Regions from separate parts of the Homo sapiens genome. Here region 1 is linked to region 2. Evidence: fine-mapped expression QTL. A gene starts in region 2. The other region holds a variant in brackets. All regions are shown on one strand. Distances are between the middles of the regions. Region 1 has its middle 13 kb from the start of ENSA. Region 2 holds the start of MCL1 (MCL1 apoptosis regulator, BCL2 family member).

What was found. PIP is the estimated chance that this variant, and not a neighbour inherited with it, causes the effect.
Region 1: its variant is the best candidate, but not a certain one, in a credible set for the expression of MCL1 in whole blood (TOPMed, PIP 0.58).

Annotation. Positions count from the first base shown.
Region 1 is chr1:150,640,106-150,645,435 of GRCh38, reverse strand. No RefSeq gene overlaps it. Among named protein-coding and RNA genes, the nearest start is that of ENSA, 13 kb to the right of the region's middle. RefSeq lists an enhancer at 3,704-4,319. The variant C/T (reference allele first, on the strand shown) is at 2,946.
Region 2 is chr1:150,577,385-150,582,752 of GRCh38, reverse strand. It overlaps MCL1 (MCL1 apoptosis regulator, BCL2 family member), which reads left to right and starts at 3,143. Exons shown (of 3, transcript NM_021960.5): 1 at 3,143-3,910; 2 at 4,262-4,509; 3 at 5,262-5,368. The coding sequence starts at 3,223. It overlaps LOC107985203 (a long non-coding RNA gene), which reads right to left and starts at 2,923. Exons shown (of 3, transcript NR_186818.1): 1 at 2,534-2,923. RefSeq lists silencers at 2,833-3,172, 3,243-3,372 and enhancers at 2,946-3,240, 3,289-4,006, 4,007-4,725, 3,686-4,885.

The DNA of each region.
Region 1 (5,330 bases), 63 kb before region 2:
AAACCCCATCTCTACTAAAAATACAAAATTAGCTGGCCATAGTGGCGCACTCCTGTAATCCCAGCTACTCAGGAGGCTGAGGCAGGAGAATTGCTTGAATCTGGGAGGCGGAGGTTGCAGTGAGCCAAGATTGCGCCTCTACACTCCAGCCTGGGCGATAGAGCGAGACTCCGTCTCAAAAAAAAAGAAACTCTAAAAGCTTGCATGTTAAAATTGGAGAACGCCACCCTATATCTTATTGTCTATAATTCATTCATCAAAAAAATATTGAGTACTTACAAATTGATGGGCACTTGCTAGGCACTGACAATAAAACATTGCATAGGGCACCATTCTAGCTCCCAAGAATGCACATTTATGTGGGCAAATAATATAATTTGTGACAAATGCTCAAATAGAAGTATAAACATAATATTTGGAAGCACAAATAAATAGTATTCTCCCTGGGAATGTTAGGGAAGACTTTGAGGTGTTGTATTTATTATGGTTATCATATATTGAGCACTTTTGTTGTGAGGTAGGTACTATGCTAACTGCTTTGTATCTTGTCTCATTTATTACAACACTAAAAAAAAAAAAAAACTCTACAGTGTTCTTTTAAAGAAAACTCCGGTGGCTGGGTGTGGTGGCTCATGCCTGTATTCCCAGCACTTTGGGAGGCCAAGGCGGCTGGATCACCTGAGGTCAAGAGTTCGAGACCAGCCTGGCCAACATGGTGAAATCCCATCTCTATTAAAAATACAAAAATTAGCCCGGCATGGTGGCACATGCCTGTAGTCCCAGCTACTCGGGAGGCTGAAGCAGGAGAATCGCTGGAACCCGGGAGGTGGAGGCTGTAGTGAGTCAAGATCGTGTCACTGTACTCCAGCCTGGGTGACAGAGCAAGACTGTGTCTCAAAAAAAAAAAAAAGAAAACTCAGGTAATGAGGCTTGCCTGAGGACCTAGTGCAGAGCTTCAGTTCAAACACCTACTTTTTAATCACTACCCTTTCTTGCCTTCATTTGAACTAAATCTCAAAGGATCGGCTGGGCCACGGTGGCTTATGCCTGTAGTCCCAGCACTTTAGGAGGCCAAGGTGGGAGGATCACTGGAGTCCAGGAATTCAAGACCAGCCTGGGCCATAGCAAGACCTTGTCTCTATTTTTAAAAAAATGTTTAAAAAGTCTCAAAGGATCTTTTCAGGCTAAGAGGGAAGAGCCAAGGCTACCCTATGCAGAGGAAATAATATGTACAAGATAATTGGTGATGTGCTAGAATTTCATGAATGCATGTCGTTTTCACATATTTCCAGAAAAAAAAAATTTTTTTTTTGAGATGGAGTTTCACTCTTGTTGCCCAGGCTGGATCTCAGCTCACTGCAACCTCCGCCTCCTAGGTTCAAGTGATTCTCCTGCCTCAGCCTCTTTAGTAGCTGGGATTACAGGCACCCACCACCACGCCTGGCTAATTTCTTATATTTTTAGTAGAGATGGGGTTTCACCATGTTGGCCAGACTAGTCTCAAACTCCTGACCTCAGGTGATCCACCCGCCTCAGCCTCCCAAAGTGCTGGGATTACAGGCATGAGCCACTGCGCTCAGCCCAGAAAATAAGAGAATATATTCAAGTTGTAAACTAAACAAAGGATTTTGAAACTGGCAGCTCTTTTTTTAGAGATGGGGTCTCACTTTGTTGCCAAGGCTGGAGTGCAGTGGCTATTCACAGGCGCTATCATAGCCCAATAATGCCTCAAACTCCTGGCCTCAAGGGATCCTCCCGCCTCAGCCTCTCCAGTAGTTGGGATTACAGGCACATGCACCAGGACAAGCTAAATTGTTTTTGTTGTTTGTTTACCTTTCCTTATTCCTTTCCCATTGCTTTTCTTTATATAGAACTGAGTTTCCAGCCAGGCACAGTGGCTCACACCTGTAATCCTAGCACTTTGGGAGCCCGAACAGGCAGATTGCCTAAGGTCAGGGGTTCGAGACCAGCCTGGCCAACCTGGCGAAACACCATCTCTACTAAAAATACAAAAATTAGATGGGTGTGGTGGCGGTCACCTATAATCCCAGCTACTGGGGAGGCTGAGGCAGGAAAATGGCTTGAACCTGGGGGGCAGAGGTTGCAGTGAGCCGAGATTGTGCCACTTAATTCCAGCCTGGGTGAAAGAACAAAACTAAAAAAAAAAAAAGAAGAACTGAGTTTCCTACTTATCATTTTCCCTCTCTCAATAACATTTCTTACAGAGCAAGTCAGCTGGATGTGAATTCCCTCAGTTTTTGTCTAAGAAAGTCTTTATTTATCCTTCATTTTGGAAGGATAATTTAACTGGAAATAGAATTCTATGTTGGGCTGGGTACAATAGCTCACCTGTAATCCCAGCACTTTGGGAGGCCGAGGCAGGAGGATCACTTGAGGCCAGGAGTTTATGACCAGCCTGGGCAACATAGCCAGAGCCCCAGTTCTACAACAACAACAACAGAAATAATTCTAGGTTGGTGGGTTGTTTTTGTCTTTCAACACTTTATATATTCCACTGTCTTACATGTATGCATGCATGCTTTCTGACATTAAATTACAACAAAACTGAAATTTAATTTAGATTCTAACAGATAAAATTTGTTCTTCCTTTTTGCCACACAGCTAAAATGCCCATAAGTGTATATTCATATGGTTTCTTAAAATGTGTTTTACTCTCCCTAAAGAATAAAAATAATCACTTTAATGCTGAAATGTTAGGTAACACTGCTTTTTTGATATTTTTCTATTATCTGTTACATGTGTGTATGTACTCTTTGTTTCTGTGTCTGCAATTATTCTCAAAGCCTTGGTCTGTCTTATTTTTCTGCTGAGTTCCAAGTTGTCTAGGTAATTTGGAAAGAGACAAACCAAACATGCTTTTTTTGTTGTTTTGTAGAGGCAGGGGGGTCTCCCTGTGTTGCCCAGCCTGGTCTCAAACTCCTGGG[C/T]TCAAGGGATCCTCCTGTCTCAGCCTCCCAAAGTGCTAGGATTATAGGCATGAGCCACCGTGCTCAGCTGAAAAGTGACTTTTTATTGATAATTGAGGGAGCCATCTCTCCCAGAAAGCAGTAAAATTTTATCGAATGCAAGTCAAAGCGAGAGTCACTTCCTGGCAGAAATCTCCGTTTTCTAGCAGCCCAGCTCACTTACCGTGTCAGTTTTCCTTTGCATTCCAAATTGTAAAAAAGTAAATTGAACCAGAGGGGAAAAACTAAATATTCTCTAAGAGCTCTTTTGTGTAGAATTTTTTCCCAGAATATAAATAATCTGGCTACCGCTTTGTTTTTCTTAATCTAATTCAACCTCCCAAAGTATGATAGTAGATTTAACTGAATTTCCTTCAGAAGCTTACCTGGGAATCTAGGGCCTTCTACTCCTTCAGAAGGGCTTCTTGACTGAATCCATGTTTCTGCCACAAGAAAAAAATCAGTCCAATAAATGTACATCATTTTCCTGATTTAATGAGAAAAATTTTAATCCTAAGTTTTTCTTGTATTTCAGAGATACTGAAATGTTTCCTCCTTATCTGAAAGTGAGACTTCTTCAAAGATTTATGGATATTTAAACCCATAAAATACCTCAAAATATTTGTAGGTTAGCCTTAATAATAATAATAATAATTCTTTTCCCCCTCGTTGTATCACCTCACTTTCATGCTCGTGCGTGTGAAGAGACCACCAAACAGGCTTTGTGTGAGCAACATGGCTGTTTATTTCACCTGGGTGCAGGCGGGCTGAGTCCAAAAAGAGAGTCAGCGAAGGAAGATAAGGGTGCGGCTGTTTTATAGGATTTGGGTAGATAAAGGAAAATTACAGTCAAAGGGGTGTTGTTCTCTGGCGGACAGAGTGGGGGTCACAGGGTGCTCAGTAGGGGAGCTTTTTGAGACAGGATGAGCCAGGAAAAGGAATTTCACAAGACAATGTCATCAGTTAAGGCAGGAACAGGCCATTTTCACTTCTTTTGTGGTGGAATGTCATCAGTTAAGGCAGGAACCGGCCATCTGGATGTGTATGTGCAGGTCACAGGGGATATGATGGCTTAGCTTGGGCTCAGAGGCCTGACACACCTTTTCTTGAACCTCCAAGTAGAGGCCAAAAAAGTCTTGAATAAGTTAGATTAAACTGATTTATATTAATCCAAAGTAGATATTTTTTCTTTTGGGAAGTAGGGAAGAAATGGGTCGAATTGAGGAGGGGAAGGCTGGAGAAGGGTGAAGAAAACAGAATAGCCAAATGGATTCTCAGGAACATTATGAATATTTAAAAGGGTGAACATTCAGTCTGAGAAAGCTGATTGAAGAAAATACTGAACAAATTTTCTTTTTGTCTTTGAGACAGAGTCTCTCTCTGTCACCCAGGCTGGAGTGCAGTGACACCATCTTGGCTCACTGCAACATCCACCTCCCGGGTTCCAGTCATTCTCCTGCCATGTTGGCCAGGCTGGAGGCTTCAAGTGATCCACCCGCCTGGGCCTCCCAAAATACTGGGATTACAGGCGTGAGCCACACCGTCTGGCCAAAAAATACTCTTTAAATGCTCAAAAAGTAATAAAAGACTTTTTTTTTTTTTTTTTTTAAGATGGAGTCTCACTCAGTCGCCCAGGCTGGAGGGCAATGGCATGATCTCGACTCTGCAACCTCCGCCTCCCAGGTTCAAGTGATTCTCCTGCCTCAGCCTCCTGAGTAGCTGGGATTACAGGCCTGCCCCACCACACCCAGCTAATTTTTTTTTTTTCCCTGAGACGGAATTTTGCTCTTGTTGCCCAGGCAGGAGTGCAATGGCGTGATCTCGGGTCACCGCAACCTCCGCCTCCCGGGTTCAAGCAATTCTCCTGCCTCAGCCTCCCAAGTAGCTGGTTTCATGTGCGTCCGTGTGAAGAGGCCACCAAACAGGCTTTGTGTGAGCAACATGGGTATTTATTTCACCTGGGTGCCGAAAAGAGAGTCAGCGAAGGGAGATGGATTATCATTAATTCTTATAGGTTTTGGGATAGGCGGTGAAGTTGAGAGCAATGTTTTGCGGGCAGGGGTGGATCTCACAAAGTACATTCTCAAGGGTGGGGAGAATTACAAAGAACTTTCTTAAGGGTGGGGGAGATTACAAAGTACATTGATCAGTTAGGGTGGGACAGGAACAAATCAATGGTGGAATGTCATCAGTTAAGGCTATTTTTACTTCTTTTGTGGATCTTCAGTTACTTCAGGCCATCTGGGTGTATACGTGCAAGTCACAGGGGATGCGATGGCTTGGTTTGGGCTCAGAGGCCTGACAGCTGGGATTACAGGCATATGCCACCATGCCTGGCTAATTTTTTTTGTATTTTTAGTAGAGACG
Region 2 (5,368 bases):
AAAAATCATTGCTCCTCCTATTTCCTCAATCTCTTTCCACTTTACCACCTGATAAAATTTTACTTTATAAAGCATGAGAGCAAAGCTACCTCCTCCATAACACTTTCCTCTAGCTCTCTCAGCCCAAAGTGAATTTCCCAACCTCTTAACTCCAAAATGAAGTTGTTAATGCCTTGTGTAGAGCATACATTCCATCTCACATTATGGTTAGTTGCTGTACAAGATTAGACATTCCTTAAATAGAGAAACTATTTCTTATTCACTATAACCACAAAATGCTCTATCCTTGCCACTCATACTATAAACCCCTATGGTTCTAGGTCCTGCCCAAAACATAAATGGGTGGTATGGACGCCGTATCACCTTACTAAACTGTGACATTTTGGGGATTAGGAACTTTTGGCCAAGAGGGAGACTCACGCCTATAATTCCAACACTTTATTTATTTATTTATTTTTGAGATGGCGTTTCGCTCTTGTTGTCCAGGCTGGAGTGCAATGGCGCACTCTCAGCTCACCGCAACCTCCGCCTCCCAGGTTCAAGCGATTCTCCCGCCTCAGCCTTCCAAGTAGCTGGGATTACAGGCACGTGCCACCACGGCCCGGCTAATTTTGTATTTTTAGTAGAGATGGAGTTTCTCCATGTTGGTTGGGCTGGTCTCAAACTCCTGACCTCAGATGATTCGCCCGCCTTGGCCTCCCAAAGTGCTGGGATTGCAGGTGTGAGCCACTGCGCCAGGCCTCATTATTATTATTATTTTTTTTGAGACCAAGTCTTGCTCTGTTGCCCAGGCTGGAGTGCAGTGGCACTATCTTGGCTCACCGCAACCTCCGTCTCTTGGGTTCAAGCAGTTCTCCTGTCTCAGCCTCCAGAGTAGCTGGTATTACAGATGCGCACCACCACACCCATCTAATTTTTGTGTTTTTAGTAGAGACAGGGTTTCGCCATGTTTCCCAGGCTGGTCTCAAACTCCTGGGCTCAAGCGATCCACCCACCTCAGCCTCCCAAAGTGCTGGGATTATTGGCATGAGGCACAGAGCCCGGTCTGTAATCCCAACACTTTGGGAGGCCAAGGTAGGAGGATCACCTGAGTCCAGGAGTTCAAGACCGGCCTGGGCAAAATAGTGATACCCCATCTCTACAAGAAATAAAAAAATTAGCCAAGTATAGGGGCATGCACCTGTGTTCCTCGCTACTCGCGAGGCTGTGGTGGGAGGATCACTTCAGCCCAGGAGGTTGAGGCAGCAATGAGCACTGATGGTGCCACTGCACTCCAGCCTGGGTGACAGGGCAAGACCTCATCTCAAAAAAATAAATAAAAAGTGAGCTTGCTCACCTTTCCTATGTCTCTCAGCACCTTGCTTTTGAATTTTAGCTATTATTTTTACAGATCTTTTAACAAAAAGGCTGCTTTAATTAACGTTAACTAACATACATGGCATATAAGAAGATCCTTGTTCTCAAGGGCTTTACAAACCTCTAGAGTCAAATGTGCCTTATTATCAGTACAAAAATAAATGGTGTCAGCTGGGTGCAGTGACTCACACCTGTAATCCCAGCACTTTAAGAGGCTGAGGCAGGTGGATCACCTGAGGCCAGGAGTTTGAGACCAGCCTGGCCAACATGGTGAAACCACATTGTCAGGCCTCTGAGCCCAAGCCAAGCCATCGCATCCCCTGTGACTTGCACGTATACATCCAGATGGCCTGAAGTAACTGAAGATCCACAAAAGAAGTAAAAATAGCCTTAACTGATGACATTCCACCATTGTGATTTGTTTCTGCCCCACCCGAACTGATCAATGTACTTTGTAATCTCCCCCACCCTTAAGAAGGTTCTTTGTAATTCTCCCCACCCTTGAGAATGTACTTTGTGAGATCCACCCCTGCCCACAAAACATTGCTCTCAACTTCACCACCTATCCCAAAACCTGTAAGAACTAATGATAATCCATCACCCTTTGCTGACTCTCTTTTCGGACTCAGCCCGCCTGCACCCAGGTGAAATAAACAGCCATGTTGCTCACACAAAGCCTGTTTGGTGGTGTCTTCACACAGACGCGCATGAAACACATCTCTACTAAAAATACAATAATCAGCTGGGCGAGGTGGCTCACAGCTGTAATCTCAGCACTTTGGGAGGCCGAGACAGGCAGGTCACTTGAGGCCATGAGTTCGAGACCAGCCTGGCCAACATCGTGAAAACCCCATCTCTACCAAAAATACAAAAACTAGCCAGATGTGGTGGCGCACGCCTGTAATCCCAGCTACTCGGGAGGCTGAGGTACCGAATCGTCTGAACGTGGGAAGTGGAGCTTGTAGTGAGCCGAGATCGCCCCACTGCACTCCAGCCTGGGCAACAGAGCTAGACTGTCTCAAAACAAACAAAAAATGGTGTCAAGACTCTCAGACGAGATTCTAATGGATTAAGGCCTATATGTAAATAGCACCAAAGACTATGGAACAGAGATGGGAGAAGCAAGCAGGGAGGCAGGAATAGTTTAGCTGTGGCAGTTTTAGCTTAGTCCACTTACATAAATGGTTCTTTAGGGTAGCACGTGGAGCATCCTCATTTCCAAACATTGGACTGAGAGTAGAGAGCTGTGCAAAATAACCACAAGTCCCCAACTATGCCCTCTTAATTATCCCTATCATCTAAGACTGTTGTTCCCATCCATCACTGAACTTCCCCGTCCTCTTCCTTCAACCCCTGTGTTAGTCAATGGTTGAAATTTTGATTTGGTAAAAAACCTCTGGCGAAAACCAGCAAAAAGGGCTCACAAATCAGGTCTCAGGGAAGCACAGAGGTAGCCACGAGAAGGCCCGAGGTGCTCATGGAAAGAGCTCGAGCCCAGGAGCTCTGGGAGGACCCCAGGCGCTCGGAGCCGCCGTTACGTAACCGGCACTCAGAGCCTCCGAAGACCGGAAGGCCCCGCTCAGGCCCCGGCTCAGGCCCCGGCCCCGGCCCCGGCCCCGGCCCCGCCCCGGCCCGGCCGGGCAGCTGGTAGGTGCCGTGCGCAACCCTCCGGAAGCTGCCGCCCCTTTCCCCTTTTATGGGAATACTTTTTTTAAAAAAAAAGAGTTCGCTGGCGCCACCCCGTAGGACTGGCCGCCCTAAAACCGTGATAAAGGAGCTGCTCGCCACTTCTCACTTCCGCTTCCTTCCAGTAAGGAGTCGGGGTCTTCCCCAGTTTTCTCAGCCAGGCGGCGGCGGCGACTGGCAATGTTTGGCCTCAAAAGAAACGCGGTAATCGGACTCAACCTCTACTGTGGGGGGGCCGGCTTGGGGGCCGGCAGCGGCGGCGCCACCCGCCCGGGAGGGCGACTTTTGGCTACGGAGAAGGAGGCCTCGGCCCGGCGAGAGATAGGGGGAGGGGAGGCCGGCGCGGTGATTGGCGGAAGCGCCGGCGCAAGCCCCCCGTCCACCCTCACGCCAGACTCCCGGAGGGTCGCGCGGCCGCCGCCCATTGGCGCCGAGGTCCCCGACGTCACCGCGACCCCCGCGAGGCTGCTTTTCTTCGCGCCCACCCGCCGCGCGGCGCCGCTTGAGGAGATGGAAGCCCCGGCCGCTGACGCCATCATGTCGCCCGAAGAGGAGCTGGACGGGTACGAGCCGGAGCCTCTCGGGAAGCGGCCGGCTGTCCTGCCGCTGCTGGAGTTGGTCGGGGAATCTGGTAATAACACCAGTACGGACGGGTCACTACCCTCGACGCCGCCGCCAGCAGAGGAGGAGGAGGACGAGTTGTACCGGCAGTCGCTGGAGATTATCTCTCGGTACCTTCGGGAGCAGGCCACCGGCGCCAAGGACACAAAGCCAATGGGCAGGTCTGGGGCCACCAGCAGGAAGGCGCTGGAGACCTTACGACGGGTTGGGGATGGCGTGCAGCGCAACCACGAGACGGCCTTCCAAGGTAAGGGGGTTCATTAATCGCCAAGGCCTCACTCCCTTTTTTCCATCTCTCCCCGGACTCACCCGCCAAGGGTGGGTTGGAAACCGAAACGAGTCAGTGTTGAAACGTGTCTCATCCTATTCCTGAAGCCAGAATATTCTGGCCATGAGTCATTGTTTCCGCCCATCTTGATTCTTTTGGAAATGGCAGCTCTTGTTCAAAGACCGGAAAGGGTGGGATGTCAATTTCAAGTGGGGTCAACCTGAGTTCTGTAAATCCCAGTAGCGATTTTCCCGCCGCGGGTGGGCAGGCGAATCTTGCGCCGGTTTAGACAAAGGAGGCCGTGAGGACCTGCATGCTTTTCTTTCTCAGGCATGCTTCGGAAACTGGACATCAAAAACGAAGACGATGTGAAATCGTTGTCTCGAGTGATGATCCATGTTTTCAGCGACGGCGTAACAAACTGGGGCAGGATTGTGACTCTCATTTCTTTTGGTGCCTTTGTGGCTAAACACTTGAAGACCATAAACCAAGAAAGCTGCATCGAACCATTAGCAGAAAGTATCACAGACGTTCTCGTAAGGACAAAACGGGACTGGCTAGTTAAACAAAGAGGCTGGGTAAGTTTGCCTTAAGGATGAAAGGGGCCTTGGAGTGGAAGTAGAATGAAGGATTTTTTTTAGAGAGGTGGGGATATCTAAAGGTTTTTATGACGCACGGCTGTTTGCAGGCTCTAACTAAAGGACCATTGTTTATTTGATGTTGATTTAAGTAGTGGATCCTTAGAGATAGTGGTATGGCGGTCTTGAATTGTATCAAAAATCTTGGTTTTCTCTAGGCAATTTTTTGTTCCAATTCAGTTGAATACTCTTCAGTGGATTCAAACCATGAAAAAATAAGTCACCAGGGGAGGATAGCTGAAATAATTCCTAAGGCGGTGCCTGTTTTAATGGAGAAGATATGGGGTGGAGCCTGCGTTTTAAACAAACCCAGATCTGATGCAGGATGTACTTAACTACGTTGAGAAAAACTGATCTGCGCAATTGAGGCGTTACTGAAATATTAGGTGGTGGAGATTTGAGAATAAGGGTTTTCGTCTTTTACCTCATGGGAACTCTGGAAGTCCTTTTGTTAGGATAAATCCTAATAAGACCAAGATAGTACTGTAAAATGAAGTTTAATTATCATGGGTCCCCGCTTAAGAAACTGAAGAACTTATTTTCTTTTTTTGCCCCGGGGTGAATAATAATTGGTTTACTATTGCTTTAGGGGGAAACCTTAGATATTTTAATTTACCTTCTCTCTGGATAGTAGTGTTGTAAGAGAGCAGAAACCCATACTTGAAAATGTGCTTTTCTTTTTTGTTTTCTAGGATGGGTTTGTGGAGTTCTTCCATGTAGAGGACCTAGAAGGTGGCATCAGGAATGTGCTGCTGGCTTTTGCAGGTGTTGCTGGAGTAGGAGCTGGTTTGGCATATCT